2 linked regions of the Homo sapiens genome follow. The protein of the gene in region 2 interacts with the protein of the main gene of each other region in a pairwise test. Each region holds a gene or a part of one and is shown on either strand. Other genes may lie near its edges. The genes, in order: FAM200C and CEP126.

The links.
Region 1: the proteins of CEP126 (region 2) and FAM200C interact in a two-hybrid assay, tested with the Homo sapiens proteins (one large-scale study listed by BioGRID and IntAct).

What each region holds. Positions count from the first base shown.
Region 1 is NC_000005.10:160,394,537-160,397,078, reverse strand, and holds part of FAM200C (protein FAM200C), read left to right. Parts: intron 1-1,539; 5' UTR 1,540-1,588; coding exon 1,589-2,542.
Region 2 is NC_000011.10:101,917,795-101,921,633, reverse strand, and holds part of CEP126 (centrosomal protein of 126 kDa), read right to left. Parts: intron 1-3,839. UniProt on the Homo sapiens protein: Participates in cytokinesis. Necessary for microtubules and mitotic spindle organization. Involved in primary cilium formation.

The sequences.
Region 1 (2,542 bases), on a different chromosome or scaffold from region 2:
AGTGATTGTGATGATATGGTGTCTCTTGTCACAGATCACTGTTCTAGTTACTATTTATAAGAATTATCTAAAATACTTACAATACAGATTCTAGGCCCCCACTCCATAGCTGGAGAATCAGAATCTCTATGGGTAGGGCCTTCTACATCCTGTCTTTGGGTTAAACCAAACCTTAGGAATGCTGCTTATTTTGTGTATGTGCATGTGTGTGTTCTTGACTGCTTTCCCTTAGAGGTATTTAGGTGGAAAAGCATCATGAAATTCGTTATTTTACTTAAGAGTGTTCTCCTATGAGAGGGATTTTTCTGAAGTCTCGGTAACAAGAATAGTTGTGTTTCCCCTGAGCAAGTTGTTTTGCTTTTTTTTTTTTTTTTTTTTTTCCACAGAGACTTGCTCTGTCGCCCAGGCTGGAGTGCAGTGGCATGATCTTGGCTTAGTAGCTGGGACTACAGGCGTATGCCACCATGCCCAGCTAATTTTTTGTATTTTTAGTAGAGATGGGGTTTCACCATATTGCCCAGGCTGGTCTCGAACTCCTGAGCTCAGGCAGTCCACCCACCTCAGCCTCCTAAAGTGCTGGGATTACAGGCATGAGCTACCACGCCCGACCATTTTGCTTTTTTATATGGACACTATGAATCATGGACTGATAGTGTGTTACACTTAGCAGCAAGGAAGCTCTGAGCCAATTTGTAGCCTACCTTTGCATCAGGGGTGGCTTAATCAGACTTAAAGACCTATTTGAAATTCTCTGCCTAAGTTGGAGTCAAAACTGCTCAAGGTTCAAATAGTATTACAGACCTGTTTAGTCTTTAACTATTAAAAAGAACTACCATGTTCTCACTCATAAATGGTAGCTAAATAATGTGTACACATGGACGTGGATAATGGAGTGATGGGTAAAGGAGACTTGGAAGGGTGGGGTGGAAGAGTGGGGTGGGAGGGAGTAGATGAGAAATAATGAGTACAATGTATGTTATTTGGGTGACGGATACCCTAAAAACCCTCACTTTGCCACTATGTGGTCTATGCATATAACAAAATTGTGCTTGTACCCCATAAATGTATACAATTATTTTAACCTCCATGTCAGAATCCACCCTTCCTTATTTAGTGAATTGCTCCTTTATTCAGTGATTCTTAACTGAGGGTATGCATACATCTTTGGGGCTGAGTGGAAGAAGGTGGTGGTAGTGAGATGCCCTTTCTAGGGATACAAAATGTGCTAGATTTGTTTGTAACATACATTATTGAAAACAAGTTAAGCCATAACTATAATTCACCAATAAAGGACTTACAGGTGTTCATAACTTGTCTAAGCTCAAATCTCCCATATATAACTTGCTGGCAAATCATTTATTCCAGGGCATTAGCTATGAGTTGCTAGCTTTAAGTTGAACTATATCCTGTCATGGCTTACTTCGAATTGACATGCTGCAGGCTGTATCTTGACATATACAAGATAGCATGTGATGTGGCTTTGTTTTAATTCAGTTAGCCACTGGTTTTTAATGTGTGGGTTATATTTTACTCCCAAAGCAAAATTCTGTGGCATCTCTGGAATACTACCTGAGAATTTTTGTGTGCCATGTCGAAGAAACGCAAATGGGATGATGACTATGTTCGCTACTGGTTCACCTGTACAACGGAAGTAGATGGAACTCAGCGTCCACAGTGTGTGTTGTGTAACTCAGTATTTTCAAATGCTGACCTCAGACCATCAAAACTGTCAGACCATTTTAACAGACAGCATGGTGGTGTAGCTGGGCATGATCTCAATAGCCTGAAGCATATGCCAGCACCATCTGATCAGAGTGAAACCTTGAAAGCATTTGGAGTTGCATCTCATGAGGATACTTTATTACAAGCATCGTATCAATTTGCGTATTTATGTGCCAAGGAGAAGAATCCTCATACAGTAGCTGAAAAGTTAGTGAAACCTTGTGCACTGGAAATAGCACAAATAGTTTTGGGACCAGATGCACAAAAAAAGCTTCAGCAGGTACCCTTATCAGATGATGTGATCCATTCTAGAATTGATGAAATGAGCCAGGATATCTTACAGCAAGTTCTAGAAGATATCAAAGCCAGTCCTCTTAAAGTGGGTATTCAGCTTGCTGAGACAACTGACATGGATGACTGCAGTCAGCTAATGGCATTTGTGCGCTATATAAAAGAAAGAGAGATCGTAGAAGAATTTCTCTTCTGTGAACCATTGCAGCTATCCATGAAAGGAATAGATGTGTTCAATCTCTTCAGAGACTTCTTTCTGAAGCATAAGATAGCACTTGATGTATGTGGCTCTGTTTGTACTGATGGTGCCTCCTCTATGCTAGGAGAAAATTCCGAGTTTGTTGCCTACGTGAAAAAAGAGATACCTCATATCGTAGTTACACATTGTTTATTGAATCCTCATGCACTTGTCATAAAGACATTGCCTACAAAACTGAGGGATGCTCTGTTTACTGTGGTGAGGGTAATAAATTTCATCAAAGGGAGAGCTCCAAATCATCGCCTATTTCAGGCTTTCTTTGAAGAAATT
Region 2 (3,839 bases):
CTGGGTTCAAGTGATTCTTCTGCCTCAGCCTCCCAAGTAGCTGGGACTACAGGCATGTGCCACCACACCTAGTCAATTTTTGTATTGTCAGTAGAGACGGGGTTTCACCATGTTGGTCAGCCTGGTCTCGAACTCCTAACCTCAGGTGATCCACCTGCCTCGGCCTCCCATAGTGGTGTGATTACAGGCGTGAGCCACCGTGCTTGGCCTCATTACACAGATATTTGAGTACTTACTAACAAGTTGCCCTCATAGTCATGAATATAAGAAAATGAAATAAGAAGATTGTATTTTACTAATAGAAAGTAGATGGAGTAAATGTTTCACCAGATCCCTTAATCTATAGTAGGAAAGTACATTTTCAAATATTAAACAATCAAATAGCAATATAACTAGAATGGTTAGGAATACAGTTTAGTTATTTACTTAGTGACTTAGTGGTTATAAAAAACCACTAGGAAAACTATGTATAGTCATCTGTGTATCCAGAAGCTTGTCAGAGAAAAAGAGGAATATTTTGGTTATCCTAATCATCTATTCACTTGAAATTTATTTTATAAAATTAAACTCTCCTTAAATAAGTTGTAGCAATATGAGTAATTTCTCCAATTTATTTAGTTGCGTTTTAATTGACATTATTAAGTATCTTTATCAAATTTGTCAGAGTAATTTTCTGTTTTTCATGAGTCTTCTGTTTTTAATGATTTTGAATTAAAAGAAGTTCATTTGGCTGGGCGCAGTGGCTCACACCTGTAATCCCAACAATTTGGGAGGCCAAGGTGGGCAGACTGCTTGAGCCCAGGAGTTTGAGATGAGCCTGGGCAATATGGTGAAACCCCGGCTCTACAAAAAATGCAAAAATCAGCCAGGTGTGGTGGTGTATGCCTGCAGCCCCAGCTACTTGGGAGGCTGATGTGGGAAGATCGCTTGAGCTTGGAGGGGGTTGAGTCTGCAGTGAGCTAAGAACACGCCACTATACTCCAGCCTGGGCAACACAGCGAGACTCTGTCTCAAAAAAAAAAAAAAAAGTTCATTGAATTACCGTGTAATCACATTTAGTACCTCATCATTAGATGTAGAAATATATGAGATTATACTGAAGTTATAGATTGTAGGGCATATCTATTTGTCTTTTTTAGAACAAACAGCTTGTTTAAAAACTTTTTACGCTAAGATGGAGGTCCAAAATTCTCTTTAAAGGCTGCATTTAATCAAGATTGTAAAAATCTCATAAATTGATTATTAATGGTAAAACAGAATACTAGAAATACACTCAATAATAAACTATGCGGTACATAATTTGTTAATTCAACATGTTAATTTCAGGATCCTATAGTGCTTCAGCATCAATATTATAAAGAAACTCTATTATTACATATTTCAGAATAACAGGTTTATTTGAACATTTTGTTGTTTAGACCTTTGCTGATGGGGGCTTATTTGTTTTCTTTTGTGTTGCTATTTAACCATCTTTATACCATAGGCCATAATTCATTTTACCTTCATTTTAAATAAAATTTTACACTACTTCAAGACAAAGACCCAAACACACTCACAAACATATTTTTACTTAAAGATTTCTTTTAAAGGATTTATAAAAATCAAACCAAAAGGGAAGAAAATTTGGTTCTTTGCTAGCACAGAAAAACTGTTTTTCTCTGATAGAATATTTTAACAAGAGCCAGACTTCAACAAGATGTCTAGGTATTAAAAGTGACAACTCGGCAGTAAAGAAAAGTGCAACTTCCTTTCAGGGTGCACAGGGCCAACATGAGGTTGAGGGGAGGAAGATGCTTTGGCTTAAGTGAGAAGCAAGGAGGAGACAGTTCTGTTCTCTGTTTGACATGTTTGAAGTCTCATCACGACAGCATAAAGAAAATCACAAATGTAATGTTTGTAATGTTCTGACAACTATATAGTCTTCAATTTAACCAAATGATTTTCTACTTTCTTTATATATAAGTATAATAGTATAGTATGTTTCCTGCTGAATTATTAATTATTAATATAAAGAATCCTGCTGCTTTTGTATCATTTCAAATATGGTATTCAAGTTTAAAAAAATTAGATGGCTGGTTAAATTTTGTTTTTTTATACAAGCTGTATGGTAAAGGTAGGAGTTCCATAAAAAAAACACTGCTAAATACCTGTCCAAAAGAAGGGAATTTTTATATACTTAACATTAAAAAAACAAAACCAAGAATAATATGTATTGTAACATGTGATTTTAAAGCATAGCTTATTCTACCCCACTCTATCCTCACTTCTCCTCTCCCAACTTAGTCTTTTATCCAGTTAGGTTGTTTAAAATGTTGCCATCACAAATAACTATGTATTATATAACCCATTTTTTCCCCAAATCTATTAAAGCTATGTTGATTCGATTTTTCCTCTACTGTACCTTCTTCCTCTCCCTTAACTCAGGTACTCTAAATCCCTTGCTTGGACGACTACAGTGCTCCTCTAATTCTTCTTACTCTAAACCTCTATTTGAACCTACACAAAGTCAGCTAAATGCAAATCTGATTGTGTTTCTCTTTGTTGTTCTCCAAAAGCTCCCTATCACCTTCATGAAAAATTCCAAAGTTCTTGGACCTATATATAAACCATTCTATAATATAGTTTGTTTTTTCAACTTTATTTCTTAACATTTCCCTGTATGAATCCTATGTCCAGACGCACTAAGATAATTATAAACAGAACAACCCGTGATGTATCATACCATTATCTCTTGGCACATGCTTGGCTAACTCTACTCATCCTTTCAGGGCCATCTCAAGCAGTTCGTTCTACCTTGAAGCCTTTTCTAACCTCCACTAGATGACTTGATGACACCTTCATGAGTACATGATAAGTGTCTTCTCTACATTTCTGTAACTCTCACGCCTGGCATGGTTCTTAGAATATAGTAATGATTTAATAAAAACCTCCTGAATTATTCCCTTGGAGAAAATTCTCTGGGGTAGATATGAGGACAAAAGGCATATGCATTTTTATATCTTTTAGTGCATTATAGAAAACTTGGCTCCTAAGGGGGTTATACAAAAGTATATGCCATTAGAAATGTATTATGTACCTAAGTTTCAAAATCTCATGAGCATGGGGCAGTACCTTTTAGAAACACAAGGTACAAAACTATGTTTTATTATGTATGTATTAGCAAAATACAATTTATTTATTTATTTATAGACAGGGTCTCACTCTGTTGCCTAGGCTGGAGTGCAGTGGCATAATCTCGGCTCACTGCAACCTCCACCTCGCAGTCTCAAGCAATCTTCCTGCCTCAGCCTCTTAAGTAGATGGTACTACAAGCATGCACCACAACACACAGCTAATTTTTGTATTTTTTGTAGAGATATGGTTTCACCACGTTGCCCAGGCTGGTTTCGAACTCCTGGACTCAAGCAATCTGCCTACCTCGGCCTCCCAAAGTGCTAGGATTACAGATGTGAGCCACTGGGCCCAGCTGAATGGGTTCACTTCACTTTCTATAGTAAAAGTAAGATCCCATCAGTGAGCCTGGGGGGAAAAAAAGACAGGTGGGTGGGAGTGTGTGTGTTTGTGCTGTTTGTTGGAACAGACCTGTCAGGGCATCCAAGTCTTATCAAGTGGTAAGACAGTCTATCGAGTGTGATGGAAGGTGACAGAGACCTGGCAGAGGCATTCATAGGAAAAAGAAAGAACCCTGTTCCTGTTTAGGTGAAGCTGGAAACCATCAATCTTTAGTGGTACAATCTGTATTGTTTTGTGATTTTTCTTTGACAGCATTTTTATTATTCGCATGAAGGAGTAAAGGAGCAGGACTATAGTAGTTATTGAGTGGCTGAGGCAGAATGATT